4 linked regions of the Homo sapiens genome follow. The protein of the gene in region 1 purifies or fractionates together with the protein of each later gene. This does not show direct contact. Each region holds a gene or a part of one and is shown in the gene's direction. Other genes may lie near its edges. The genes, in order: GUCY2D, MXRA7, MOCS1 and TUFT1.

Region 1 (6,726 bases):
CTCAACCCAGGACTCTGACACCAGAATATATTTTGACCTCTTGCATTGACCTCTACCTGCTAGGTGGCCCAGGGGAGTCGATCAAGTCTGGGTGCCCGCAGCATGTCAGACATTCGCAGCGGCCCCAGCCAACACTTGGACAGCCCCAACATTGGTGTCTATGAGGTGAGCCTGACCCCAGCCAGACAGAGAGACAGTGGGGGAAGAATGCTCAGGCCCTGGGCAGAGGGGAGGCGCACTCTCAGGAGGACATGTAGTCATGTCAAATCCTGCAGGCTCCAGGAGATGGGGGATGGGAGCCCAGACAGGATCTAGGGAAAGGTCATGGATCCCTCAAAGGGAAGCACCTAGGAATCTTCCCTCCCCAAGGATTTTTCTCTAGCCACTATCTGGGTAAGGGCTCCTCAAAAGCTAACCACAGTGACCCAGAGACTGGAGGCTGGAGCTGCCAGGGAGCATGCTGGGACCAGCAGGTAACATGGTGTGGCCACTGAGACCATCTCCGGCCTGGTCAGAGCCTCTGGCCCTGCCCCTCAGCATTTCCACCCAATTCAGACCAGACTCAGGAATAGCAACCCCTAGAGGGGGAAAAGAAAGTCACAAAAAAGTATTAGGACATTAACTTTGGGGCTGGTAAATCTGAATGCGGTCAAGTGGAGGGGAGATGATGAGAACAGATTGAGAGAGAGCTGAGAGTGCTGAGCAAATCAAGAGAGTAGAAATTTAGAGCTCCTGGGCTTCAGGTCATGGGAAGGAATGCAGAGGCTCCTATCATGTCACCTAGAGATCATCATGGCCAATTCTCAGAGGAGGCACTATTGTCATTTGGGGCAGATTGTCCTAAATTGTATGGGACTACTCTGTGCCTTGAAGAATATTTAGTGTTTCTTGTCTCTGGCCCTGTCCACTAATGCAGCTCCTAGTTTTTGTGACAGTTAAAACTTTCCCCACATTTATTTCCAAATGCTCCTTAGGGGTCAGTACTAAACCCCAATTCCCTTCTAAATTCCCTTCTAGTCCAAATCCCTTATAAACAAGACAGGGCCACCTGCATAATTAGCGAGATCCAGGGCAAGATAGAAATGAGGGGCTCCTCGTTCATTCATGATGATGGCAGGAGGTCATTGAACCAAGCTTGGGCCCTTCGGAGCACGAGGCCCTGTGTGACTGCACAGGTCCCATGCCTGTGAACCGGCCCTGCCAACAGTTGAGGATGAGGTCCAGCATCAGGAGGGGAGCTGTCTATAGTTCAGTTAGTTTTCAATAAAGCCTGATCTACCCAGATTTTTTACTCCCAGAACATGTTCTCTCATGGCAGTGGATGGTAATGAGGGTTGTGATGTCGATGACACTTGTGGTTGTATTAATGCACTTAATAGGACTATTGGTGGGCACAGCTGGGTTGGTGAGGACAGCCATCCATGGCTTCAGAATCTCTGTCATCCAGGGGTGGGCCCTCTCCCAGATGGCTGTGAAGTGGATGGGCATACATCAAACCCCTTGGTTCAATGCATTTTGTCACATGGAAGATGCATTCTGGGACAGTGAGCCAATGGAAATGAGGGGGAGGGGTTCTAGGGCTCCCCATCGTGGGATTTTAAGAGACTGAGTTCCCTACCCCCATCCTCTTTGCTGCAGGGAGACAGGGTTTGGCTGAAGAAATTCCCAGGGGATCAGCACATAGCTATCCGCCCAGCAACCAAGACGGCCTTCTCCAAGGTGAGACTTGGGCCTGTGATGGGGCCTAGGTGGCCATCGGTTTCTCCCTCCTTGCCTTCTCTTTGCAGCTGGGTACAGAGGTAGGTCTCAGTTAAGTGTCCCCTCTGGCTGAGTGTGGTGGCTCATACGTGTAATCCTGGCACTTTGAGAGGCAGATGTGAGGGAGGATCACCTGAGGCCAGGAGTTCAAGACCAGCCTGGGCAACATAAAGAAACCCTATCTCTCCAAAAATTTTAAAATTAGCTGGGTGTGGCGTTACATGCCTGTAGTCCCAGCTACTCTTCAGAGGGTGAGGAGGGAGGATTATTTGAGCCTGGGAGTTGGAGGTTACCGTGGGCTGTGATCATACTACTGCACTCCAGCCTGGGTGACAGAGCAAGACCCTGTCAAAATTAAGAAAGAAAAAAAAAAACATGTTTCCTCCACCCTGGAGTAGGCTTTCATTATTCTCTGCCACACCACTAGTTCTTTCCTTTGATCTTGTTGCAATGTGCAATTGTATGTTCATCTGTCTGCCTGCTTGTTTCTGCCTCTCTCGCTGGACTGTAAGCTGAGTGAGGGCCTCCTCACTCCCCTCCATTGTAATCAAGCACCCAACACAGTGTCTGGAACATTAGAGAGACCCAGTGAATGTTTGTTGATCTAATGATAGAAAATAAAAAATGAGTTTCCGGTTCTGTCAGGCCACTTGTGCAGAATAGCCCTGGACATTCTGAATGAAGTGCAAAGTTGGCAAGGAGGCTGTAAATGGCTTATTCTGGTCCTTACAACCTTAATGTCTCCCTTTATCTCCATGCCATGCAGCCTGGGCCTGGCCTTCTTCCCTGATTCCTCTACAGGAGCTCTTGGTCACAGATGCAGTGACTTAAGTGGACTATGTGTATGGGGATTAATGAACTCGATCACCATTTAATACCAGGTGTTTAAAATGAAAAGTATCTGGGCGCGGTGGCTCACACCTGTGATCCCAGCACTTTGGGAGGCCGAGGCGGGCGGATCACGAGGTCAGGAGATCGAGACCATCCTGGCTAACACGGTGAAACCCCGTCTCTACTAAAAATACAAAAAAAATTAGCCGGGTGTGGTGGCGGGCGCCTGTAGTCCCAGCTACTGTGGGAGGCTGAGGCAGAAGAATGGCGTGAACCCGGGAGGCGGAGCTTGCAGTAAGCCGAGATCGCGGCACTGCACTTCAGCCTGGGCGACAGAGCAAGATTCCGTCTCAAAAAAAAAAAAAAAAAAGGAAAGGAAAGAAAAGTATCCCCTTATTGGGCATGTGGAGGGAAAAGCTAGAAAGGGCACCAGTCAGCCAGCTAAGCCACCTTTTTTTCTAGCATGCCCCGATTGTGAGGGCACTGTCCTGCAGAGCAGTCAGTCCTGTCTTCCCTAACTGAGGGAGGGTGGGAGTCTCAGACCCGACTGACACAATGACGTAACGCCAAGCAGAGCAGCCCCCGGCCAGGTTGCAGGCACACGCCATTTCTGGTGTCCTTTGAAAGTGGCACAGCTTCAGGCCGGGCACCGTGGCTCACGCCTGTAATCCCAGCACTTTGGGAGGCTGAGGTGGATGGACCACCTGAGGTCAGGAGTTCGAGACCAGACTGGCCAACATAGCAAAACCCCATCTCTACTAAAAATACAAAAATTAGCCAGGCATGATGGCACACACCTGTAATCCCAGCTATTCGGGAGGCTGAGACGGGAGAATCGCTTGAGCTCAGGATGCGGAGGTTGCAGTGACCCGAGATTGCACGACTGCAATCCAGCCTGGGTGACAGAGTAAGAATCTGTCTAAAAAAAAAATACATAAACAAAAGAAAAGAAAGAAAGTGGCACCGCTCCTCCCTGGCTCTCCCAGCAAAGGCTGTTAAATCAGGAGAGGATGGTGGTTCCAGGAGCTTCTCCTTCATGAGCTGCTTCCCTTAAGACCCAGGCAGTTCAGAGTTTTATGGCTGGGGCCAGGTGTGGTGGCTCAGGCCTATAATCCCAGCACTTTGGGAGGCTGAGGTGGGAGGATCATTTGAAGCCAGGAGTTCAAGACCAGCCTGGGCAACATAGCAAGGCTCCCATCTCTACAGAAAAAAAATTTTAAATGTTATCTAGGCATGGTGGCACAAGCCTGTAGTCCCAGCTATTCAGGAGGCTGAGGTAGGAGGATCACTTGAACCAAGGAATGAAAGGTAGCAGTGATTTATGATCATGCCGCTGCACTCCAGTCTGGGCAACAGAGTGAGACCTCGTGTCTAAAAAAAAAGGCTTATGATCAATAAATCCGAACCTGCCTGGGTCCTGATCACCAATGCAAAGTTGTCTTTTCATTCACAGCATTAGGCTAAACCATACTCAGTATCCAAACAGTGGCCTTTGACTATATTGTTTTTTCCAAAAATAGGACTATGTGTAGAAGAGAGCCCCCGTACATACCTTATCAACCATTTCATCCACCATTTGTAAAAATCTCATCTTCTGGGTCTGGATACTCAAAAACAGATCTTGATTAACAGCCCCTTCCCCACATTGCCCTGGGCAGAAAATGCAAGTCAACTCTCCCCCTCTCAGCTCCAGGAGCTCCGGCATGAGAACGTGGCCCTCTACCTGGGGCTTTTCCTGGCTCGGGGAGCAGAAGGCCCTGCGGCCCTCTGGGAGGGCAACCTGGCTGTGGTCTCAGAGCACTGCACGCGGGGCTCTCTTCAGGACCTCCTCGCTCAGAGAGAAATAAAGCTGGACTGGATGTTCAAGTCCTCCCTCCTGCTGGACCTTATCAAGGTGTGTGTCTGGGGGTGGTGGGGTGACGTCCTGGGGGCAGGGATGGGGAGCAAGGGAACCAAGCAGGCTGAGGCTGCCTCTTACCCTACCCATTCCAAGGGAATAAGGTATCTGCACCATCGAGGCGTGGCTCATGGGCGGCTGAAGTCACGGAACTGCATAGTGGATGGCAGATTCGTACTCAAGATCACTGACCACGGCCACGGGAGACTGCTGGAAGCACAGAAGGTGCTACCGGAGCCTCCCAGAGCGGAGGGTAAGAGTCCCCTGTGCAGACGAGGATCCACCGGGATCCCCATTATTTCAAGGGCTTCTCCCCCGCTTCCTCCCTACCTCTGCCCTCGCACTCTCTTCATCCCACATCCACCAGACACAATTCCTGCTACAGAAAAGATCTTGTGGCCTCTGAGAGGGTGGGCTCTGTGACTTCGGAGACGGGGCTGCTGGGGGCGGGACTTGTACCTGAGCTGCCTGCAGCAGGGTTTGCTCTGATTACAAGTTTGCCTGAGGGTGGGGCTTGTGCCCAAGAGACGGAGCCTTCCCTGGGCACCACCTTTTCTGAAGGGCAAGGCCTATTTGCCAGGCTTTCTCTGAGATGGCTCCTAGAGATAGTTGCAGGGCTGGTCTCAGGTTGCAGGGTCTCAGACCGGTCTCAGGCTGCAGGGTTGGTGGTGTCTGGGTGCCAACCTGGGCTTTCTGGTGAGGGTGGGAGTCTTTCCCCAGCGGCGCCTCAGCCCCTTCCCCATCCCCAGACCAGCTGTGGACAGCCCCGGAGCTGCTTAGGGACCCAGCCCTGGAGCGCCGGGGAACGCTGGCCGGCGACGTCTTTAGCTTGGCCATCATCATGCAAGAAGTAGTGTGCCGCAGTGCCCCTTATGCCATGCTGGAGCTCACTCCCGAGGGTAAGGCTGCCCTGTGCGTGGAGTTCGGCCCACAGGGGCACCCTGCAGTTAGAAAAGAGCCAGCCTCACTCTTTCCTCTAAAGCAAAGCCCAGTGATGAAACTCAATTATACGGAGGCCCCCTTAAAGCTGGCATCTGCAGGTCTGGGTGCAGAAAGCCGTGCATGGCCAGGGTGGGGAGCGTGGTTCATTAGGTCCCAGACCACAACAGCTTCCTCTTTCTTGATGCTGGAACCAAACTGTTTCCACAACTGACAGAACAGACTCCTCTCTGTTCTCAGGGGTCCCTGGGAGGAGCAGGGGAGGGGGAGTGGGTGCATCCCTTCTGCACAGGACTCTGAGCAAACTACTTGATCACCTATCCCTCACTTGTCTTACATACAATATGTTAGTTTCTTTGCCTATGTCACCTCTTACTGACCCCCAGAGTTCGAGGTCCTCTTGTTCCTCCTAGCAACCCCCTTCCACACTATACTCTCCCTCCACACACACACACTGAACCTCTGATGTAAAGAAACCCCTGCCAGGCACCCCCTCCCACATCTTGGTCTTCAACAGTCAGGCCAGGGTCAGAGGCAGCCTTTGTGTTCTGGGGGCACTCCCCCTCACTGTCCCCTCATGCCTCCAGAAGTGGTGCAGAGGGTGCGGAGCCCCCCTCCACTGTGTCGGCCCTTGGTGTCCATGGACCAGGCACCTGTCGAGTGTATCCTCCTGATGAAGCAGTGCTGGGCAGAGCAGCCGGAACTTCGGCCCTCCATGGACCACACCTTCGACCTGGTCAGGGGCTGGGAGTGGGCAAGGACTGGGCTGGCCTCTGGGATCCCAGATGCTTGTCAGCAACCTGAGACAGCTGCAGACAGGCAGGCTGGCAGGACCTCTGGCCTTCCAGGCTACCTCCTAAGGAGTAGCCTGAAGACTCGGAGTTTGGGGGCAGAATTGGAATGGGGGCTGTGGAGGCTTTTGGAGTGGGAGATAGAGTTCTGTCTGGGTGGGAGGAATATTCAATTCAATTCAAATAACACTGATTGAGAACCAAGTATGTGCTTGGCCTGCTGTGACAGAAAGACCCTTGGCCTGGGAGCCCAACGATTGGGCTGGCTCCAGTGCCCTGTCAATTACTAGCTGAGATCAACTGACCTCTGGGAACCCTCATTTCCCACGTGCCTCCTAATCGTGTCTGAAAACACAGTGCCCAGCACCCCGGGGTGCTTGATGAATAGTAGATGAATGGTGGCAGCGGGGTTGGGGTTCAGAGTGAACAGCCCCATGAGAGGGCCCATGAGGGGGGCATAAAGAGGGCATGGCAACCCAGGTCTTCAGCAGCTTTACCAGCTTCCTTCTA
Region 2 (7,567 bases), about 69 Mb from region 1:
AGGCAGGCGGATCACCTGAGGTCAGGGGTTCGAGACCAGCCCGGCCAACATGGTGACATGCCATCTCTACTGAAAACACAAAAAAATTAGCTGGGCTTGGGTGGCGGGCGCCCGTAATCCCAGCTACTCGGGAGGCTGAGGCAGGAGAATCGCTTAAACCCAGGAGGCAGACGTTGCAGTGAGCCGAGATCGCGCCACTGCACGCCAGCCTGGGCAACAAGAGCCAAAACTCTGTCTCAGAAACACACTCAGAAAAAAACAGAAACCAAACAAACAAAAAGTCACTCAGAGGAGCTCAAGGCCCCTCTGGGTTTGCCACTTCCGACCCGCTGTGGGGCTTGTAAAAACTTTGCCTCCCGGCACAGCTCAGTGTTTTGTTAGGGAGCCTCCCGTGAGCGGCCGACGCTGGCTGGGCTCCATGGGATCAGCTGGGGCTGCTCATTCATTCATTTCCACATCTACCCACTGGGCTTCCAAGTTGAAGTTCCTGGGGCTCCCATGTCCCCTCCCCATGACCTTCAATCCCACAGAGCCCATGGGCACGGCACGTCGCTCTCATCCTCTGACATTCCTGCAAGCTGAAGTCACTTCTTCCTTCCACCAAGGCCATCCCGGGCCATTCCTCTGATCATCTGTTTATTGTGTCTCTGTGTGGGAGAGAACTGGCTGAAGAGGTGGGGCTCCAGTTTTGGGAACATGGACACTGAGAGAGTTGGGGATGGAAAACAACATAGAAGGAAGCAAAGCCAGAGGCTGCGATGGCCATGCTGCCTGGCCCTGGTCCCAGACAGACACCCCAGCCAGCTTTCCTCTTGCACCCTTTGTCTGCTGGCCGCAGCGTCGCAGTGGGAGTCCTGGGCCCACTTCTCCAAATGGCACACAGAAGCCTCAACAGGCACCCACCTGGGAAAGGCCAAGGCCGAGGGCTTGGGGTGCACAGTCAAGAACACGCCTCAGCTCAGCATTTGTGAGCCGAGTCACTTTGGCCCATCGTTTGTACACAGCCCCCACCTGCTGGTTGACCATGACCACAGGGCAGGCGCTGCCACAGGGCGTGGGCAGGCTGGACCTTCGAGGGCCTCCTCTGTCTCCCCTACCTTCTGCCCCCCCACCACTTCCCATCACCCAGTCTGTGCCAAGGGCACTGACCCTGTCCTTGTCTTGCAGGAAGAGGAGCAGGACTTGGATGGTGAGAAGGGGCCATCATCGGAAGGGCCTGAGGAGGAGGACGGTGAGTGGGACCTCTGCGCTCATGAGGGGGCCTGACAGTGTCGGGGGTGGTCTGTGTCCTGCTGGGGATCACAGGAGCTGGGGTTCGAGTGCCGAGGGGAGGGATGGGGTGGGACAGTGGCCTGAGTGGGGCATGAGAGGTAGAGTCTGGCGCCATGGATGTCCTGCCCTGGCCTGCCTGTAGCCCTCCCTCACCCCCATTGCACTTTGGGGCTTGGCTTTCCCATCCCGGGGCCCCTCTTGGGAACACACTACACGCCCTGCCTGGCTCTGTCCTGCGCTGCCTCCTAACTCCCCTTTTGTGACCGCGCTGTACATTTCACGATTCTCTCCAAACATCTCTGACCTATTTTACTGAGACGAAAACCACTCACACGGCCTCCCCCGTGCCTTCTTCAGAACGAAGGCCCCAGGAGGGCACACGCCTGCTTTCTAAGCAGCTCTGGCTGACTGGCCACAGGCCCCAGCCATGAGACTGAGAGGAGAAAGGGAGTGACCGAGAACAGGGGAGACACTGCCAGATCGGACCCGGCCAGGACAGACAGAGGCGGAACCAAACATGGAGTGGCTTCTGCTGGGTCCATCCACTTATTTCTCTAAAAAAGAAAGCGGAGGCAGACATGCAAGATGTCAGCGTTTGTTGGCTCTGTGTGGCAAGCACAGGGAGGATTAGTGCTTTCTGCATTTTTGTATGTTTGAAATATTTCATAATTTTAAAAAAGCAAGTCTGCTTTTGTGATGTTAAGTCGGCTGCTGGCAGGAGCAGTGGAAAGAGAAGGTTTCAGGAATGTAGGAACCAGCTCCTGCGGGCAGGCTGGGCTGGGGTGCAGAGCTTCCCCTGAGGCAGTGCCTTGGTTTCCATCAGCACAGCCTGAAGCAGGAGGGGAGAATGAAGCTTGGGTGCAGGCGGTGGGCTGCAGGTGGGGACATTAGTCCCTTACCAGGAAGGACCCTTGCTCCCTGCTTTTGGGGACTGGGGACTCACCGCAGCCATGGCCCTGGCATCTGTCCCTGCCATGTGGCCTGAGACAGCTGAAGGGATGCAGGGATCCTGTTAGTGACTTGGGGACACGGGAGGGAGGCCCTTTGGCAAGGACAAGGAGAGAGGCTCGCAGACCCCTCTCCCTGGCATAGCTGCCAGAGGGCACAGTCCCCCAGCACTGTCACCAGCCTCCCCCCTTATCTGCACCGCTGCTCCTGAACATCCCCCACCCCCAGCGCCTCCTGCCATCTTAGCCTCCTGCCATCTCTAGCAAGGCAGGGAAAGGAAAGGTTTATGGCTCCAGCTGTTGGAAGAATGTGTGAGCACCTCCAGCCCCTCTGCAGTACGAGGCAGCCTCAGAGGTTAATTATTAGTGTCGCTAAAATGACTTCCCTGAGCGACTAGGTGAATTCACAGGAGACTGGAGGAAGAAACCTCCCCCGTCCCTCGGAGGCTGTCACGTTGAATTCTGGTCTAGCAAAACTGGATGCGCTGCCTGGTGCACTGCATGTGACTGAGCGAAATCCTTTTCAAGTCGTTTGTTCTGTCTGGCTCAGAAAACAAAACTAATCAGACTTGCCCCATAAATTGAAACCTAAGACTGGGACCAAGGCAGGATTTTGTATGTTTTCTTTTTTTGGGGGGTAGGGGGATACTGGAATCTTACTCTATTGCCCAGGCTGGAGTACAGTGGCGCGATCTCGGCTCACTGCAACCTCTGCCTCCCGGGTTCAAGCGATTCTCCTGCCTCAGCCTCCTGAGTAGCTGGGATTACAGGCGCCTGCCACCACGCCCGGCTAATTTTTTGTATTTTTAGTAGAGACGGGGTTTTGCCACATTGGCCAGGTTGGTCTCGAACTCCTGGCCTCAAGTGATCCACCTGCCTTGGCCTCCCAAGGTGCTGGGATTACAGGCATGAGCCACCACACCCAACCAGATGTTTGGGTTCTGAATTCGCATCTAGAACCTTCTTCCTTTCACCCTGAGAGCCCCCCCGCCTCCCCATCGGTCCACATCAGCCTATCCGGTAGCATGAAGGCTGCAAGCTAGAGGGGAGGGGCCTGGCTTTTCGGGCTGCTGGACAGGATATGGAGGGACAGAGAGGGCAGCACTTCCAGAATAGCAGCTGAGGATCTCTCTATGCCTCCCTCACTGGGTCCTTTAGTTAGTGGAGGTCGATAAGAGGCCAGCCAGCTCTGCCCGACACCTGCTGGATTCAGGAACCAAGAGGTTGCTCCCCCATGGGGCTTTTCCCTCTGGAAGCTCAGCTTTTCTCTCCTCACCGTGGCTCATGTGCCCGGAGCCTGTGTCCACTCCAGGCCACAGGTCCTGGCTTCCTCTGTGCCCACCACCTACCCATCCATGTGCCCTCTTCAGGCCTCGAGATCTGTCCGTTTTTTGCAGGCAGCAATGGGGGGTCTCCCCTCGGGGACTGGCAAATCGGGCTCTGCCTCTTCAGCGGTACACACGTCAAACCTGCTGCAGCAAATCCCGCATCCCTGGCCTGGCCACTGTGGGCTGCCTGGATGCGTGTTTTCAGATTTCCAATAGCCACAGGGGGTGGGGGGATGACACAAGCCTCCCCAAGCCCAGGCAGGCGTGGTGTGTGTCCCAAGATGAGCTGTGCTCTGCTTGCCGGAGTTGTCGCCTCTGAGCTCAGTAGCCGAGAGGACCTGCTGGGCAGGGCCAGGGCAAGGCAGAGCACTGCAGATGTTGGGAGGGATGTGGCATCTGGAGACAGCTGTGGACTAGGAGTAGGACTGCTTTCTCTCTGGCTGTCTCGTTGTAGGATTTAAGGGAAAGCTATGGAACGAGAGGGGGTATAGGCGCTGGGGTGAGATGTCTCTGATAGCCAGATGTGGCCTCTGCTTGAGGTGTTTCTTTTTAAACCTAGGGAAAGGGGGCCGGGGTTTGTGGGGCCAGCCTCTACAGCACTCCTGGCACTTACTGGGTCCCCCCTCCACAGGAGAAGGCTTCTCCTTCAAATACAGCCCCGGGAAGCTGAGGGGAAACCAGTACAAGAAGATGATGACCAAAGAGGAGCTGGAGGAGGAGCAGAGGTAGGCTGCAGCCCCTTCGCTGGCGCCTGGCGGGCTCTTGGGGGAGGGGGGTGCCCCTCTGAGCCCTTCATGTTCCTGCCCCTTGGCAGAAGGGCCCAGAAAGGAGGTGGGGCTCCTACACGCTCTGCCCAACCACCGCCCCACCTTCCCAGTTTAGGAGTTCTTTCCTGCCCTGGTCAGCCAGGCTCGCACACCCCTGGCACCCCTCCCTGGCACTGACCAGAAGGAGGCCACTGGTGATGGGGGATACAGAGCCCATTTACTGCACCCCCCCACCCCCTCCACACCCCACTGCCCCCATCTAAAGAAATGAGATGCCAGGAAAGAGCCTGGAGCAGACCTGGCTGTCACTCACACACACAGTCCCCAACAGAGCTGATTTCTCCATTTCTCCTTCGGGACACAGCGGATTCTTGGTGCTCATCCTTCAGCGGCCTCCCAGGCCGGCGCCTGCAGCAGCGCCTTGTAGCTCCGGGCAGTGCAGCTATGGCTTCTCGTTGTTGGAATTGGCTCCCCCTTCCCATTTGGACACCCCCTGCACAGCCACTGGGCACCCCGCCACCTTTTCCCTCCACACCATCCTGCTGGGCGGGGAAGGGGTGCGCTGGGCACAGTGGGACAGCTGGGGAGGTCTCAGCAGAGGGACAGTCCTTTGCACCAGGCGCAGCAGGCTCCTGGTGCTCACCCACACTGCTGCCCTTCTGCAGCGTGGCCTGGAGTCCTTTGGTTAAAGCAGAAGTCTAGGTGGTAGCTGTGCCATTTTCCAAGCCTGGCGACCCAGAGCAGCTTGTGGGAATCACCCCCTACTTGTCAGCAGAAACCAGCGGTCTAGGGTCCGAGCAGGAGGGGTGGTTTATGATTTTGGAATCAGAACTCAACTGCCCTCTCATGGCTGCATGCCAAGCCACCCGCCGGGCAGCCCTCTAACCTCACAGCTGCTCTGCCGGTGACAGGCCCTGTCTCCCCTCCCGCTGCTGGCATCAGCGCTCTCGACCCTCAGCAGGAAAGCTCTTCACCCTGGGTGGGTGGGGGGCGGGCAGTGTAAGCACAGCCAGGAGGAAGAGCCCTGGCAGGAGCCCCGAGTCCTCAGGTGCTGAGGATGCTGCCGCTTGGCATGACCAGGTTTGCTGCATTTATATTTCAGGATTGAGCTGACCTCTGACCTCACTTCCCTGTAGCAAGTTCCTTAGGTCCTGAGCCACAAATATTCTTGCAAATCCTTTTGGTAAGGACACTGATTTCTTAGACTAGTGGTGCTCCCCTTCTACTGCGTGCTAACGTGCCCCCAAACAACTGACGCGGCCTCAACCTCCCCTCCTCCATCGCCTTCATAACCGATTAATACATTTCCCACCTGAGCCCTTCTCATTCTTCTCAAGCACGAGGAATCTCTGGCAGAAGAGGCCCCGTCTGGGGGCAGAGGTTCCTGGAGGGGAGTTAAGTCCCTGAGTTCCTGGAGGGGGCCTAATGGGCCGGCAGGTTGGGGTGCTAGCGCCCCCTCGCAAGGCTGGGGGAACTGTCACCCTGGGACCTCAGGCTTCGGAAATGTGGATGTCGTCACCCTGCAGCCTTGGGTCTCACCCTGAGAAGATGAGGCAGCTTCTGCACAGTGCACAGCAGATACTCTGAGAACGGTCCGTGCTCCCAAGCTGTGAGACAGGCAGGTTCTTAGGATCAGGGCAAGGGTTAGCAGACAACGGCCGGGCCACATCTGATCCCCCACCTGCCTGTGCCAATCCAGCGTGGCAGTAGTAGCAACACTCACCCATTTTCCTGTGGTCTGTGCCTCTTTGTGCCGCAGTGGCCGAGGTGAGTCACTGCAGCAGAGACCACACAGCCCCCCAAATCTAAGTAGTATCTGGCTGTTTGCAGAAAAAGGTTGCAGTCCCTGGACAGAGGCTAGAGGGGGCTGGACACAACTGCCAGCCCTTGAAGGTCCCTGGGGACAGAGGCTGCTCAGGCAGATGGATCTGGAGGGCCTCTTAGAACAAGAAAGACCAGGCCTCCGGCTGGGGGTGAAACTGCCACTGCCACCCACGTCCAGAGCTGGGACCTTGGCAGTGGGGAGGGAAAATCCCTTCCCCTTATTTTCAGAGAGTAGACCCTCTGCTGCCCATCCTTCCCCCACTGGATCTTTGGAGGTCTCTAGACCACCAACCCACACTTGGCTGTTCTGTGGGACCGAGACTGTGCCCGAGGTGCTGCTCCTGGGACGAGGGAAGACTCCTCGACTCCTCTGCATGCTGCAGTTACCACTTTGTGCCCTGAATTGAGAAGGAGGGGCCGGAGGACTTCTTGGGGCAGGACTGGAGTTCACGTTCATTCCCATCACTGCCCAGCCCGCATGCTCCCTGTGGCTCCTAGGCATGCCGGTGGCATCTGCTTGCTCCCCCACACCTCTGCCCCCCTGCATGTGGTTGCCCCTCGCAGCACTGCGTGGGGTCTCCGCGGCTCCACATCACGCTGTCCTCACACGGTGATGCTTGGGGTTGCAGAGGCTGGTCAGTTTGGCTTTGGCTCTTCATCTTCAGCACGATGGTTCTCATGGGGGTGGGGAGCGCTGGCAGCTGTGAGACAGTTCTGGTCCCAGCCAAGTCCAGGGAACCGCCCTAGAATCATCAGTATGAAAAATAACATGCCTGTTGTTATCAAACCACTAAAACCACAGGCCAGCTAGCAGGGTGCTCTCTCTCCGCCTGTCAGGTTCCACCCTCCCGGCCTCCATGCCTCTGATGCCTTTCCCAGCTCTCAGGGTCCAGTCGAGTTGCAGCTACAAGCTGCACGTCCCCTAACTTTAAATTTACTAGCTCAGCCAACAGATCTGCATCTAGAACCTGAAGCTTTAGTGGTTGCCAGTTCCAGCACTCCCCAGGAGCTTCAGTTCACAGGCTCTCATGACAATTAGGAAGTGGGACTGGAAGCAGAAGGCCCCCAATTAGTTCCCCGACATGCTGAAGTGGTCAGTCTCATCCTTGAACTACTCACAGATCAAATTCCTTCCGCCTGGGGCCAGAAAGCGGTCAGGTCTGTAAATCCAGAGGCAGCTGCTGCTTAAGATCCTGCTTGCCACTGTCTGCCCGCCTCCTCAGCTCTCCCCTCGGGCCGGAGTTTCACACACTTCATGCCTCTGGTGGCGTCCCTGGGTTCCGCTGAAGCTGCTGTGGGAAGTGCCACCTCCAGTTTCACAGTGTGGCTAGGACAGTGGGCTTGCAGGCTGGTGACAGCTCCCCTGAGCAAGAGGCCTCCTCCTCCTCCCCCAGAGCTAGGGAAGCTGGCAGGGCTTGGCTGGCTTCAC
Region 3 (7,567 bases), on another chromosome or scaffold:
AGGAATGGGGCTCGTTAATATCTGAGTAATGAGTTTGCATTGCTGGCAGGGTGAGAGTGTGTGTGTTTAGGAGGCTGGGTTCAGAACGGGTGGTGCAGTCTGCATAAGTCTAGACAAGGTCACAGAAGTTCTTAAAAGTGAAATCTGACCAGCCTCTCCCATTGCCAGAACAAAAGCACCAAATTCCATTTTTTTTTTTTTTTTTTTTTTTGAGAGAATCTCGCTCTGTTGCCCAGGCTGGAGTACAGTGGTGCGATCTTGGCTGACTGCCACATCTGCCTTCTGGGTTCAAGCGATTCTCTTGCCTCAGCCTCCCGAGTAGCTGGGATTACAGACTCGCGCCACCACAGCCAGCTAACTTTTGTATTTTTTAGTAGAGACGGGGTTTTGCCATGTTGCCCAGGCTAGTCTCACACTCCTGGCCTCAAATGATCTGCCCTCCTCGGCCTCCCAAAGTGCTGGGATTCCAGGCGTGAACCACCACACCCGGCCCCTAATTCCATTCTTGATTGCTCCATCACACTGCTTGCTCTCAGGTTTCTGCTGAATAATGCTCCTTGGTCCTCTCAACTTCCAATTCTTTGATGTATTTTGACTCCTCCCCCATCCAGCCACCCCATCCCCCCATCATGTCAAGACTGGGTTGAGGGGGGGTATCTTGGCAAGTGAAGAGGCAGAATCTAGGGTGACTAACATGACTGAATTGCAAATAGCTGTTGATGAAAAAGAGGGCACAGCACTGCAATACATCCAGATTCCCAGGTATCTCATCTGGACTCCGGTGGCTGATGGGATTCTTGATTATGGAGTGCTCCCCGCCCCAACCCTGAGGCTATCTGTGGAAAGGCAATGGGTTGAGTTTGAGTTTTCTCCATCATACCGCAGGGAGGGAGGAAGTGACTGTTGTGATTATAGCAGACGGCAGTTAGAGAAGTGACTGCTGCTTACTCCCCACAGGATGGTGAGCAGGGCTTCTCAGAGGAGGTGGGAAATTCTCCCGCGGTGGGTAGAGTGAGGAATGTTTTATGGGCCCAGAAAATCAAGAGCAGCTTCACACATACTCTCATGTCTCTTATCTTTGAGCCACTCAGTGGCTCTTGACCCAGTCAAGGGCTGCCGATGAGAATTACCTGGAGAGATTGAAAACGTAACAGATTCAGAGATCCAGATTTAGTTGGTCTCCACTGGAATGTTTTTTTAAAGTTCTCCAGATGGTTCTAATGTGCAGCTGGAGCTGAGGAACTTACTGAAGCAAATGCTTCTTCCTCCTAATTGTAGGCATAGTTGCGCTAGACCTTTGGAGGGCCTGAGACCTTCTGTTCTTCATCATAATTTTAAGTGTTCACCTACCATCTTCTGATACCACCACTACCACTCCACCCCTGTCTTTACTCCTAGCAAGACAACCTTAGCCTGTAGCTGTATTCTTATTTTACAACTGGGAAAGCAGGCCTGGAGAAGTTAAGGGACTTTCACAGTGTACCAGGTCATACCTACTGCAGAAACCAGGGTTTCTTATTCCCATTCCAGAACCTTGTCTGTAGATCTCATGCATGACTTCCAGGGTCGTGATTTTTTTGTCTGAAATATTCTAGAGAAGTGACTTCTACCCACCCTAGTTGTCATCCTCCCTATCTTCTTGGACTCTCTCTGTGATAGAAGGGAGTAATTTAGAACCTGGAATCAGGGTCGGGTGTGGTGGCTCATGCCTGTAATCCCAGCACTTTGGGGGGCCAAGGCAGGTGGATCACGAGGTCAGGAGATCGAGACCATCCTGGCTAACACAGCGAAACCCCGTCTCTACTAAAGATACAAAAAATTAGCCGGGTGCAGTGGCGGGTGCCTGTAGTCCCAGCTACTTGGGAGACTGAGGCAGGAGAATGGCATGAATCTGGGAGGTGGAGTTTGCAGTGAGCCAAGATCGCGCTACTGCACTCCAGCCTGGGCAAAAGAGCGAGACTCCATCTCAAAAAAAAAAAAAAAGAACCTGGAATCAGAAGACCTGGATTTGAATCCTGCTTCTGCCGAGGGTGTTCTTGGACCCCATCCAAGCCTTAGTTATAATAATCCCTTGTGGAGTGGGTGTGGGAATGAAACAGAACGTTCTTTGGAAACTTTAAGATGCTTGGTAAATGCTACTTCCTTGGAGCAATTATCTCATCAGCATCTGTCGGGACCCAGGTTGTACTCTCCAAGGACCGATAGGTCAGGGGGAGACGGATCAGACTAGATCAGACTTGTACATGGGAAAGAGTGAAGCCGGCTCCCTCCTTTCTCTCTGCAGGACGGGTTTGGGCCTTGCTTGTGGCCTTCAGCAGTCTCTTCTCATTTATGCCCGAGACCATGGGTGCACAATCCTTTTTTTGGCACTGGCTAGAGTGAAGAATAAGGGCTAATAGATTTCCCCACACCCTTGCCTCCACCTTGCTGCCCAGCCAGAAATCTTCCCAGTAGAGATCACCATCCGCCCCCGACCCCCAAGCTGAATACTTAAGGGGTGGGTCCTTCCCATCAAGCTGATTTCTCAACGAGAGGGACAATCCCAGCTTCCCCAACATTGCAGAGCCCAAACATGTGGAAGAGTTGGAAGCTCCGCACAGATGTCAGAGTAAGGGAGGGGGCAGGCGGTTCTCCTTGTGCCTCTTCCCAGCCCGGTAGCAGGGGCCCATGCTTCCTCCCTGGTCTGTCCTCGCAGGAGGTGTCCAGGCGGAGGCAGTTCCTGCGGGAGCATGCGGCCCCCTTCTCCGCCTTCCTCACAGACAGCTTCGGCCGGCAGCACAGCTACCTGCGGATCTCCCTCACAGAGAAGTGCAACCTCAGATGTGAGTCACCTTCCTGGGCCCTCTCTGGGCTGGTGTCCATCTGCTGAAGCAGCCCTTGAAATTTCCCTGTGCCTGGAAATCCTCCTGTGTCCTCCAGTTCTGCTTTCTAACTTCTTCACCTGCTACCCCTTGCTTACCAGGCCAGGTGGGCTTCAGGGGCAAGATAGGGGTCAAGGCTGAGTTGTATGATTATAGAAGCTGTGTCCTACTTGGAATTAGATTTGAAAACATAAATGCAGTTGGATTTAGAATTAAGATTGGATCCTGGACCTCTCATTCTTCAGGGGTCCTTCCTCCTGTTTCCCTGTAGTTCCCGAAGTCCAGGACATGGCCAGGGGTGGGGTGGTGGACATTATAAACATTTGAAGTAGACAGCCATGCCCATGCCAGCACTGCTGACTCTGGAGGTGCCCCAGTCCCGTGACAAATCAGCTGGGGCTAGGCTAATAACAAAGAGGCCTCATTTCATAATCCTCCCAAAGAGTGCTCTGGATCTGTAGCCACTGCTGGAGGGACTTCCAAAGTTGATCTTCCTTCCCCTCTGTTCCTTCCTTCTGCCTCTCCCCACTTTCCCCTCCCCTTCCCCCCTTCCCCCCCTTCTTTTCCTCCCCACTTTCTTTCACTATACCTCACGATAAGAAATAAAGTTACTTCATGGCCCAATAAATGCATGCATGTATGTTTAGTAACTTTTTAACCAAACAAGATGTACTATATGCTTTACATTCTGGTAGTCTTACTTATTCTCTTCAGTCTCAAAGGACTGGTTCTGGACCCAACTGAGTAATTTGCCTTCATGACTCTCTAACAGATCTTGACCCAAACCTTAATGAAACTGCACCACAGGAAGTGATGGTGGAGGATGGTGGCCCTTCCACAGCCTGCCGCTGCTCACCTCATTTACCCCATTCTGATACCTCACCATGAACAAGTAGTATCTCAGTTTTCCAACATATAAAATGGGTCTGATGATAACCTGAAATAGATAGAGTGGATTTGAGAATGCTTGTAGCTACAGAGGACGGCAGCTTTTGCCAGGCCAGAGAGTACCTCTCTCTCACCCCATGACACACAGAGAGAAAGCTACCTGTTTGCCATAGCCAGTGAAATGCAGGAGGATGGGTGACAATGCCAGGAGGAACGCCCCTGCCCAGGTGCCCTCAGCCCAGGAAGTCAGGCCAGGCTCTGCCCTCAGCCTACTTCATCTCTAACCCATGCCCTTGGCCTCCCACTGAGGGATGTTATGGCCAGATTGTGTGTGTTGGGCATAGGGAAAGGTGTTAACGTTTCAGAAATGAGAAAGGTGAGGCCTGGGGAGATGCTGGCCTGGGGTTTTTCCACCTCAGGTTTAGTGAGGTCTCCGCTCACATCCAGATGGGTTTGAGAAGCCTTTGGCCTGATGGAGAGTTGGGGAGTGGAGGCATCACGGGGCTGTGGCCGTGCCTCTTTCCTCCCTCCACATTCCCATTCATCCTTCCCTCAGGTCAGTACTGCATGCCCGAGGAGGGGGTCCCGCTGACCCCCAAAGCCAACCTGCTGACCACAGAGGAGATCCTGACCCTCGCCCGGCTCTTTGTGAAGGAAGGCATCGACAAGATCCGGCTCACAGGTGGAGAGCCGCTTATCCGGCCGGACGTGGTGGACATTGTGGGTGAGTTGGACGAAAGTCATCGCCACTTCTCCCAGCGCTGCCTCATCCGGCTGGACACTGATGCCGATGTTAACAGTGGCAGCTGACATTCATTTAGCACATGACACTCTCTTGGTCCTACAACACCTGCTGAGACAGGTGCTATTATTATTTCCATTTTTGATGAGAAAATGAGGCTTAGGTTGGATAACTTGCCCAAGGTCAGGAAGCTCGCAAATGCCAGACCTCAGTAGCTTGCTGTCACATTGAGACCAAGGTCCTCCAGGAGGCCCACGTGACCTGGCTCTTGCTGACCTCCAAAACCCTTGCAGGCTTCTCCACCTTTCCCCTCCTTCCCATTCACATGACCGGGCCTTGACATGTGCTGTTCCCTTTGCTAGGAGCTCAGGGCACTCTCCTCGACCTCATTCAGGTCTCTGTTCACATGTCATCTTCTCAGCAAGGCCTTCCTCAACCATCCTGTCTAAAGTGCGTCCTCATGTACTCACACCAGCCACTCTTTCCCAGAAATTGGCAAGTTATAGCAGCCAAATCTGGGCCGACATGTGTTTTTGTCTAACGTGCAAACTGAGTGTTGTTTGTTTGTTTGTTTGTTTTTGAGATAGAGTCTCGCTCTGTCACCTAGGCTAGAGTGCAGTGGCAGGATCTCGGCTCACTGCAACCTCCACCTCCCAGGTTCAAGTGACTCTCCTTCCTCAGCCTCCAGAGTAGCTGGGCTTACAGGCACACACCGCTATGCCTGGCTAATTTTTTGTGTTTTTAGCAGAGACGGGGTTTCACCATGTTGGCTAAGCTGGTCTCGAAACCCTGACCTCAAGTGATCCACACACCTCGGCCTCCCAAAGTGCTGAGATTACAGGCGTGAGCCACTGCATCCTGCCATGGTTTTTATGCTCCTAAATAATGGGGAAAAAAATAAAATAATAACATTTTCTACCACACGAAAATTATAAAATCCTATATGTTCAGTGTCTATTAATGGAGTTTTATTGGAATATAGCCATGCCCATTCATTTACATATTGCCCATGGCTGCTTTGGCAGAGTTGCATGGTGTTGACAAAGACTGTGTTGCAAAGCTGGCCAGCCAAGTAGAAAATATTTACTATCTGGACTTCCACAGAAAAAGTGTGGCAACCCCTGCCCTACTCACTTACCCTACTTTGTTTTGCTTCATAGCATTTATCTCATCCTGGCACTGTGTGTTTGGGTTGTGTGTTTGGTTTCTTTAATTGTCTGTCTCCTGCATTCGCTGGCGTGAAAGCTCTCAGGTTGCTGGAGCAGGTTTTGTTTTTGGCATCCAGTACCGTGCCTGACACGTGGTTGATGCTCCCTGAAATTCGCTGAATGAATGGAGACTGGGTCAGAGTAGTCTCTGCAGTACGGCATATTCCTATCTGAGTCTCCACTGTGCCTCTTACAAGAAGCGTACCTTGGGCAACTTTTAAAATCTGTTCTAAGCCTTGAGGCAGTGATAGTACCTACCTTATAAGGTTGACCTGAGGAGGGAATGAGAATGAAATGCCCAGCCTATGGCAAGTGCTCTGTAAAGGTAGCTCTAAAGGGCCTCTTGCCATGAGCTTCTAAACCCCAAGATCAGGAAAGAGACCTTTGCTCATGTAATTATAGGTGATGAAATCGGGGCTATGAGGTTCCATGTTCTTGATTGCTGCCCCGTCCAGCTGCTTTGGACAGGACCCCCCGCCCCTCAGCTCTCTAGCTCAGTAATTGTTCGCTGGAGTGCCCTCTTGCATGCCTCCTACTGTGCTGAGCACACGAAGATGAATGAGCACCAGCCCTGCTGTTGAGGACCTGTGGCCCACTGGAGGAAGCAGCTGCTGTATAAGGGGAGCCTAGGTGCTGTGAGAGTCCCAAGGAGGGGCCCAGGTCCCCCTGACAGCCCTCTTCTCCCTCCTGCCCCATGGCCAGCTCCCTTCAGCTCCTACTGGTCACTTGGCCTGGGAACCTCTGTCATCCTGTGCTGGCTGAGCTGGCCCAGGCAAGCTGACCCCATGTTCCAGGCAGCTCCTCAGGGCTAAAAGGCAGGCTGGCTGCCAGGAAAGGGCTGAACCTGCTGAACCAGCTGCTTGCCAGGCCCAGCCCCCTCATCCAGGCCACTTCCTCTCCCTGGCACCCGCGGGCATGGGCCGCCTTGTGCCAGGACCTGTGAGAGAGCAGAGGGGATGAGGATCACTCACTGGTCAGGGAGGTACAGGATGGCTGAGCACTGGTATGAGGACTCGGGGCTCTCCCGGGAAACCCCAGCATGCAGAGAGGGAAGAATGGGAGCCAGGAAAGTTGGTAGCTCTGTCCCCATTCTGCCACTCTCTGGCTGGGTGAACTTGTGCAGGTTCCTTCCCCACCGAGGGCCTCAGTTTCCTCAGCTGTGGATGAGCCACTTTAAGGATGTTTTCTGCTGTGATATTCTGTGGTTATTGGCCCTGGCTGATGGAATGGGATGGGCAAGGGGTGATCGCCACATGGATGCTAGTTAGGACAAGGCCCCGCTTGCAGTGACCTGCTTCTGAGGATTTACCTCCTGCCTCCCAGGTGGTGGGGGTGGGTGAAACACCTCCCCTTGCCCCTCTCCCAGTGCTTCAAAAAGAATGGTGGCTGCACCCCCTCACTTCCTGTGGCGCTGTGCCTGTGAGCACTCTGACATCCCTCAGGGGCTAGCCTCTGATCTTCCCCAGAGGAGCTGCTTCAGAGCAAAGCAGCCTTGAAGGGCAGGGCAGATGGGTGCTGGTGGAGGAAGGAGGGATGGGGGAAGAGAGAGAACAGAAGTCAGGGCCAGGATGTTCACGAACACTTGTGCCTACCCTCTCACGTGAGGGTTTTGAGGGGCCCCCACCTGGAGGCAGAGCAAAAGGATTGCAGGTTACAGTTTCTGCCGAGCCTGAGGTCCCGTTCACCTCAGGTCCATGTCTGAAGCTCTGTCAGCCTTTGAGAGGTGCTGCAGAACACCCCACGGGAAGGGTTTGGGCCCCTCAGCTCTCTCTGGCTCCCTCTGCCAACCCCTTGCCTCTCCAGCACTTCTGCACCCTGCTTCGTGTGCAGACAAAGTCCCATGCCCCTTCTTTTCAGCTGAGATGGGT
Region 4 (7,567 bases), on another chromosome or scaffold:
ATTAGCCAGGTGTGGTGGTGCGCACCTATAATCCCAGCTACTTGGGAGACTGAGGCAGGAGAATCATATGTACCCAGGAGGTGGCGGTTGCAGTGAGCCGAGATCACGCCATTGCACTCCAGCCTGGGCAACAAGAGTGAAACTCCGTCTCAAACAAACAAAAAAAAGAGCATGGCTCTGGGAATCTGACTAAGGTGGGCTCTAATCAGGCTTTGATGTCTGCTTTGCCCAAGCTCACTTAGGCAAATTACTTAATTTCTTCATTCTTAGTTTTCTCACTTGTAAAACTGGGATAATAATTGCACCCTTCTCATAAGGTAGTTGTGAGGATTAAATTAGATAATACACATAAAATATGAAGCACAGTGCCTGGCATGTGGTAAGTACTCAGAGGTTAGCTATTATTTTCTATTTCTACTGGCTTAGACTAGACTGTTTTAACCTCCTATAAGCAACCAGCCAAGGGATGGAGGAAGAGTCTGGGAACTCTCTGGTTTGGGCAAGGTTTGCTCCTCCTCATTATGCTGACTTTTGTTTATTCCTGTTTCTTTCTCGTTTCCTTGATGATCCAGGTCCCTCAACCAGTGGAGAGTCCCAGGGGTGAGAGGAAGGCCTACAGATAGACCCAGGGTGAAGACCTGAGTAACCTTTGCTAGTCCTGACTCAGCCAGTACTGGTCTTAGACTGGTGATGGGTCAGGGTTCATATTTTGGCATCTCTCTCTGGGCATCTTTCCTCTTCTTTTTTAGACCTCATGACCAAGGCAGCTGGTGTCCCCTGCTGCTCTGGTTTCTTTAAGTAATATATCAGTTTTATCTTTCTTTCGAATATTTGCATTTTTTTCTTTTTTTTTTTTTTCTACAGCATCTTTTTATTGTCTTTACCATTACTTTAATGCATTTTAAAATTTATCTACATTAATTGGGAACTATTTGCATTTTTTTCATCCTCTCTCTCTTTTTCTTTTTCTTTTTTTGGATTTGTCTTGGCCAGAGAGGTTCTCCAACACCCGGGTGGACTTGGAATTTTTTTATCAGCTGCAATCTGAAGACTTGTCTTTACTGTGGAATAGGTGACATTCCTTTAGGACCTCAGAAGCTCAAGTAGTTTAATGCCAAGTCTTTCCAGAGCCTCACTCTCTTTTATTTTTTAAATTAGAATTGTGATTTATTGAAGCCTTACCATGAGCTTCATATAATTTTTTATGAACAGCTTTATTGAGATATAATTCATATACCCCATTTAAAGTATGTAACTCAGTGGTTTTTAGTACATTCACAGAGTTGTGCAATCATCAATAAATCAATTTTAGAACATTTCCTTACCTTATAAAGAAATCCTGACCCATTAGCAGTCACTCCCCATTTCCCCCCAATCTCTCTCAGCCCTAGGCAGCCACCAGTCTACTTTTTTTCTCTATGGATTTACCTATTGTGGATATTTAATATAAATGTAATCATCGGTATGTGATCCTTTGTGACTGGCATCTTTTATTAGAATGATGTTTTCAAGGTTCATCCATGTTGTAATGTGAATCAGTACTTCATTCCTTTTTATGGCTGAATAATATTCCATTATTTAGATGTATTACAACTGTGTTCGTCATGGATAAATGTTGGTGGACATTTGGGTTCTTTCTACTTTTTGGCTATCATTTATAATGCTGCTACGAACTTTGGTGTACAAGTTTTTGTGTGGAAATATATTTTCATTTCTCTTGGAGAGGAATACCTAGGAGTGGGATTGCTGGGTCAGAATATTTGCATTTTAAAGGAGGATTCATCTGTAGCCATTGCTGCTTACTCCAGAGGACTGAATGTATTCTAAAATGTGGAAGTCCTGGTTCTGTGACATCTGAGTGTGGGGAAAAACTGCTGGGCAGAGGAGCCTTTCAAGTTTGGTGGCTGCCTGTTCCTTCTACTCATGAAACTTGTCCTAAACTCAGCCCATAAATTTCTCCTCACACCATCCCATCTCTCCCATTTATTGCCAGGTTCTTACTTTCAGGAGCACTGCATTTTTCTGATGTCACCAAGGCTGCCAGGAATTTGGGGAATGCTGGGCTTTGCCAGAGAAGGAGGGATCTCCTCTGAGCGAGGAGAGTTACCTCATCATCAGGCATTTGGCACTAACATTTGCCCATAGTTCTCCAGGGTGGAGGGGGGCGTGCACCCAGATGGTTTCAGTTCCAGACACGTGTGCTCAGAGAGGTGGGATGAGCTTCCTTGCCTGCTAGTAATTATGGTGCATGCCTCTTTGGGTCAAGGTGCAGAGGCTTGTGAAATACCTTTGTTTTCTAGGGGTTGGGAAGGTTCAGTTGCGGAAATAGGTATGTGCCAGGAAGGCTGGTGGCCCAGATTTAAGCCTGGCCAGCAGAGGCAGGAAGTGGAGGAGACAATATAGGGTAAGAAGGGGATGAGTCGATGAAGGAAGAAAAGAGACGTGGTTTTCTTGGGTCTGGGAGCACAGAAGCAAAAATCACTAAGCAGGTAGTCAGAGACTAGAGAGGGCAGAGCCACTCCCTTTGATGCAGAGGGGGCACTGAGGAACTTGCCCTTTCATTCCAGGTTTGCTGGTCGCTAGGCAGGTGTCCTAGAGTGAGACTGGCTTAGCAAGTGGGTGTCTCCTTCAGAGTTGGTTCAGGAGCTCACTTCCCTCTACAGACACACTGTCACTGCTAGGCCCTAGTGTTTTCCTTTGTTAGGGCTCCAAGTAATGAGAAAGGCTGCCCCATGTAGGGTGCCACCTCAAATCCTTTTTCTCATTTCACCTCACAGTAACCCTGGTGAGCCCTCTACATAGTGCCTGTCCAGCCCATGCCTCTGGGTAGGCAGCCACATAAAAATCAAACACCTGTTTTGTTGGCTAATCTGGGGAGGAAGAAAGGGAGTGATTCTTTGTGTCATACTCCACAAAGGGCCATCTCTGGCCTAGGCAGCACTGCAGAAGGCAGGACCATGTACCTGAGACTGATGAGCTGAGTCGGGTGCGAGCCTCACTCAAGGAGAGGGTAGAGAGGGTAGGTACCCACCTATCCCATCCGGCTCTGTTCTTTGAGTTTATGGGACTTCCTTCATCCTGATCACTTGGGTGCCATTGTTACAAGGGGCTGGCTATTCCTACTTTTCTTTTTTCTTTTTCTTTTCTTTTTTTTTTTTTTTTGAGACGGAGTCTTGCTCTGTCACCAGGCTGGAGTACAGTGGCCCAATCTTGGCTCACTGCAGCCTCCACCTCCCAGGTTCAAGTGATTCTCCTGCCTCAGCCTCCCAAGTAGCTGGAGCTACAGGCGTGCGCCACCACGCCCAGCTAATTTTTGTATTTTTAGTAGAGATGGGGTTTCATCCTGTTGGCCAGGATGATCTCAATCTCTTAACCTCGTGATTCGCCTGCCTTGGCCTCCCAAAGTGCTGGGATTACAGGCTTGAGCCTCCGTGCCCAGCCTCCCATTTTTCAAAGTGGGGAAACTGAAGTGACTGCTCCTCCAGCAGCTTGAGAGGCCATGTACACTTGGGGTGGGAAAGTGGGTGGGATTGAGGGGCAAAGTGAGGGAAGAGTGGGATACAGGGTGAAGATGAATTAAGGTTGCTGGTTTCCAGCTCAGGGGCAATCTCCACTTCCTTTACTTCCTCTTAGAAAGAACCTTACACTTGACTCCTACCCAGTCCTAGTGACCCCTGTAAAACCTGGGGAGTGAGAGCTGGGGGAACGCAGGCTTTTCCCTATTCACATGAGCCTGTGGTGTGAGAACTCTGCACCTCTCTCCTTATTTCCCTGGGGCCTCCCTGTTTATCTCCTTATCTCTGCTGTGGCGTCTTGATCTCTAACCCCTCAGCTATGTGTTTACCCCCTCCCTGCTTTGAGGAGTGAGTCAGGGTTGGAGATTTGTTTGAACAGAGTGGTGAGGCTGCCTATAATTTGGAGGTAGCTGGGCTTCTCCCAAAAATGTTTATGAGGTTAGAGGCTGCTTACCTTGTGATTAGTACTGCTCCTTTTTCCCTAGAGAAGAAGGCTCCACTTCTCATCTTGCCTTTTAGAGTACCCAGTAGAGACCCCCCTGCCGGATATTTTTGGGGTGTTCCTAAAGCTCCCTGGAGCCTGCTCATAGTCCTGAGGAAATGCAAGCCTGCTCTAGAAAACAACTAAGTGCACCAGGCAGAGAGGAGCCCCAGGATTTGCTCCTTGACTCTGGGTTGGGGGTGCAGGCCGAGGTCTGTGGCCTTGCTGACTAAGATGCATTCTCCAGTTCTGGAGGATGAGGTGCCAGAGAGAGCCCTAAGTTTTTCATCAGCTCCATTAGACAATTTACCTCATCCACCCTCTTCCCTTGCAGACTTTCCAGAGCTACTTGGGAAAGTAATGCTGCTTCACCCTTGTGAAGAGATGTATGGTTTGCAAATCACTTTTACATCATTCTTGCACATCTATCTACTCTTCCTAAAATGTCGGTTGTGAAATTATCACCCTCATTTTACAGACAGAAAACTGAGGCCCAGAGAGATTAAGTGATTTGCTCAAGGATTAATGGTCATCAATCAGGACTCAGACATCCTGCCTCTGACTTCAAGTTTAGTACTTTGTTTTGAAACAGAGTCTCGCTCTGTCACCTGGGTTGGAGTGCATGGCACAGTCTTGGCTCACTGCCGCCTTGACCTTATGAGCTCAATTGATCCTCTCACCTCAGCTTCCCTAGTAGCTGGGACTGCAGGTGTGCACCACCACACCAGGCTAATTTTTGTACTTTTTGTAGAGACAGGGTCTCATTATGTTGCCCAGGCTGGTCTCAAACTCCTGGACTCAGGTGATCTGCCCTCCTGGGCCTCCCAAAGTGCTGGGATTACAGGCGTGAGCCAACATGCCTAGCCAAGTTTAGTACTTTTTCTTTCCTTCTCTTTATATGTTTTATTATAGGAGTGTCACAGGGCTCACTGCACCTCTCTCCTTATCTCCCTGGGGCCTCTGCCTCCCAGGTTCAAGCGATTCTCCTGCCTCAGCCTCCCAGGCAACTGGGATTACAGGTGCCCACCACCACACCTGGCCAGTGTTTTGTATTTTTAGTAGAGACGGGGTTTCACCATGTTGGCCAGGCTGGCCTTGAACTCCTGACCTCTGGTGATCCACCTGCTTTGGCCTCCCAAAGTTCTGGGATTATAGGCGTGAGCCACTGTGCCTGGCCCAAATAGTTTTTTCGTTTGTTTGTTTTTTTGAGACAGAGTCTCACTCTGTCACCCAGGCTGGAGTGCAATGGCGTGATCTTGGCTCACTGCAGCCTCCGCCCCTTGGGTTTAAGCGATTCTCCCACCTCAGTTTCCCGAGTAGCTGGGATTACAAGCATGCACCACCAGGCCCAGCTAATTTTTATATTTTCAGTGGAGACGGGGTTTCACCATGTTGACCAGGTTGGTCTCAAACTCCAGACCTCAAGTGATCTGCCTGCCTCGGCCTTCCAAAGTGCTGGGATTACAGGCGTGAGCCACCACACCTGGCCCCAGCTTGCTTTTTCACTTAACACTTATTTTGAGATTTATTCATGTCAATGCATGTTTCATAGTTCATTTATTTTCACAGCTGAATAGTAGTTCATTGTACTAATATGTCAGGGTTTATTCATTCATTTTCTAATTAGCCAGGCACGGTGGTGCACGCCTGTAGTCCAGCTGCTTAGGAAGCTGAGATGAGAGGATCAATTGAGCCTGGGAGGTCAAGGCTGCAGTGAGGCATGATCATGCCACTGCACTCCCGCCTGGGTAACACAGTGAGACCCTGTCTCAAAAATAATATATAATTTAAAAATTTGTTTTCTTGTCAGTGGGCCATCTGGGTGGTTTCTGGTATTTTGCCATTGCATGCAATGCTACTGTGAACATATTTCTACATGTCTTATCTTTATATTTCTATAAGTGTAATGAAATCCCCCCAAAATAGCTCATTAGCATTTTAATTTGCCTTTTCCTTTACTGGTGAGGTTGAGCATCTTTCCTATTCCATTAGCCACTTGTTATTTCTTTTTAGAGTTGCCTTCTTAGTCTTTGCTCAGTTTTTCCTTGACCTTCCTCTGCTACTTTTCTGTGTCTGCTTTTTCTAGTATTCCATACTGCTTCTCTAAACTGAAGAGCTGGAGTTTCTCAAAGGGAATTGGGAAAATCCCTGAACATATCACCTGGAACTCATGCAACAACATATTTTTTTGAGAACCTATTCTAGGCCAGCCATTGTACTAAATAAGCTATCCATGTCTTCAAGGAGCTTATGATTTTCTCGGGGGAGATGAATGAATTGTTACAAAAGAATGGGCTCCTTGTTAAAGTGCAGGATATGTAGGTTGCAGTAGGTGCTCTGACTGAGGGAGGAGTGCTGGGATAAGGGTCGGACCCTCAGAGAGGAGATACCTTGAAGGCTGAGCAGGAATTCTCCAAGGAGGCAAGGGAGGAGAGGATACCCCGGTCGGAGAAAGCAACATGCGCACCTCTGGGGAGGTGGGAGCACGTATTGCACTGGAAGACCCGTTAGCAGAAACAGACTTGGCTTTGGATGCCTTCTACAATTGGATCAGGAAAAAGTTGGGGATAGAGTGCAGGGTACATTGGGGTACTGGAGGGAGTCAAAACATTTTATGTGGTATAAACTGTGATGGTCCTGATCATAAGGGGACTCTAATACCATAATAAGGAGTTTTTGACTTTTTGTTTTTAAAAACATTTAATAGTAACATATATACAGAAAAATATGTACATCACAAATGTCCAGTCAAGTAATTTTCACAAACTAGACACATTCCTGTGAGCAGCACCCAGATCAAGAAACAAATCATTACGGGCACTGCAGAAGCCCCCTCATGTCCCCTTCTAATTACCACCTACCTCCACCTCAAGGGTAACCACTATCCTGACTTCTAAAGTGCAAATTATATTAGTTTTGCTTATTTTTGTGCTTTTTATATAAGTGGAATCATACAGTATACTTTTGTGTCTGGATTCTTTTGCTTAACATCTTTGTGAGATTTACTGATGTTGCATGTACAGTGCTTCATTCTTTTTCATTGTTGTACAAAGTTCCATTGTATGAATATATTACAATTTATTCTACTCTTGCTGAACATGTGGGTAATTTCTGGTTTGAGGCTATTTTGAAAAATGCTACTGTGAACTTTCTAGTATACATGCTTTTATGGGAAACATATGTATGTGCCAGGGCAAAGGGAAAGCCTCTCCTTCACCCTCGGAAGTTTTGCTGAAAATCACTGACAAAAGAAAATAGGGAAAAAGGCCCGGGCGCGGTGGCTCACGCCTTTAATCCCAGCACTTTGGGAAGCCGAGGCGGGTGGATTACCTGAGGTCAGGAGTTCGAGAGCAGCCTGCCCAACATGGTGAAACCCCATCTCTACTAAAAATACAAAAATTAGCTGGGTGTGGTGGGACACGCCGGTAATCCCAGCTACTTGGGAGGCTGAGGCAGGAGAATTGCTTGAGCCCGGGAGGTGGAGGTTGCAGTGAGCCGAGATCGTGCCACTGCACTCCAGCCTGGCCGACAGAGCGAGAGGGACTCTGTCTCAAAAAAAAAAAAAAAAAAA

What was found.
Region 2: the proteins of GUCY2D (region 1) and MXRA7 purify together in Homo sapiens (affinity purification with mass spectrometry; one large-scale study listed by BioGRID and IntAct). This does not show direct contact.
Region 3: the proteins of GUCY2D (region 1) and MOCS1 purify together in Homo sapiens (affinity purification with mass spectrometry; one large-scale study listed by BioGRID and IntAct). This does not show direct contact.
Region 4: the proteins of GUCY2D (region 1) and TUFT1 purify together in Homo sapiens (affinity purification with mass spectrometry; one large-scale study listed by BioGRID and IntAct). This does not show direct contact.

What each region holds. Positions count from the first base shown.
Region 1 is NC_000017.11:8,007,868-8,014,593, forward strand, and holds part of GUCY2D (retinal guanylyl cyclase 1 precursor), read left to right. Parts: intron 1-63; coding exon 64-165; intron 166-1,638; coding exon 1,639-1,719; intron 1,720-4,276; coding exon 4,277-4,483; intron 4,484-4,582; coding exon 4,583-4,739; intron 4,740-5,235; coding exon 5,236-5,385; intron 5,386-6,012; coding exon 6,013-6,161; intron 6,162-6,726. UniProt on the Homo sapiens protein: Catalyzes the synthesis of cyclic GMP (cGMP) in rods and cones of photoreceptors. Plays an essential role in phototransduction, by mediating cGMP replenishment.
Region 2 is NC_000017.11:76,681,777-76,689,343, reverse strand, and holds part of MXRA7 (matrix-remodeling-associated protein 7), read left to right. Parts: intron 1-630; exon of another isoform or gene 631-696; coding exon of another isoform or gene 697-1,167; coding exon 1,168-1,231; intron 1,232-4,178; coding exon 4,179-4,272; intron 4,273-5,416; coding exon of another isoform or gene 5,417-5,450; exon of another isoform or gene 5,451-5,497; intron 5,498-7,567.
Region 3 is NC_000006.12:39,922,584-39,930,150, reverse strand, and holds part of MOCS1 (molybdenum cofactor biosynthesis protein 1), read left to right. Parts: intron 1-2,434; exon of another isoform or gene 2,435-2,572; coding exon of another isoform or gene 2,573-2,695; coding exon 2,696-2,822; intron 2,823-4,305; coding exon 4,306-4,473; intron 4,474-7,567. UniProt on the Homo sapiens protein: Isoform MOCS1A and isoform MOCS1B probably form a complex that catalyzes the conversion of 5'-GTP to cyclic pyranopterin monophosphate (cPMP).
Region 4 is NC_000001.11:151,545,160-151,552,726, forward strand, and holds part of TUFT1 (tuftelin), read left to right. Parts: intron 1-636; exon of another isoform or gene 637-732; intron 733-7,567. UniProt on the Homo sapiens protein: Involved in the structural organization of the epidermis. Involved in the mineralization and structural organization of enamel.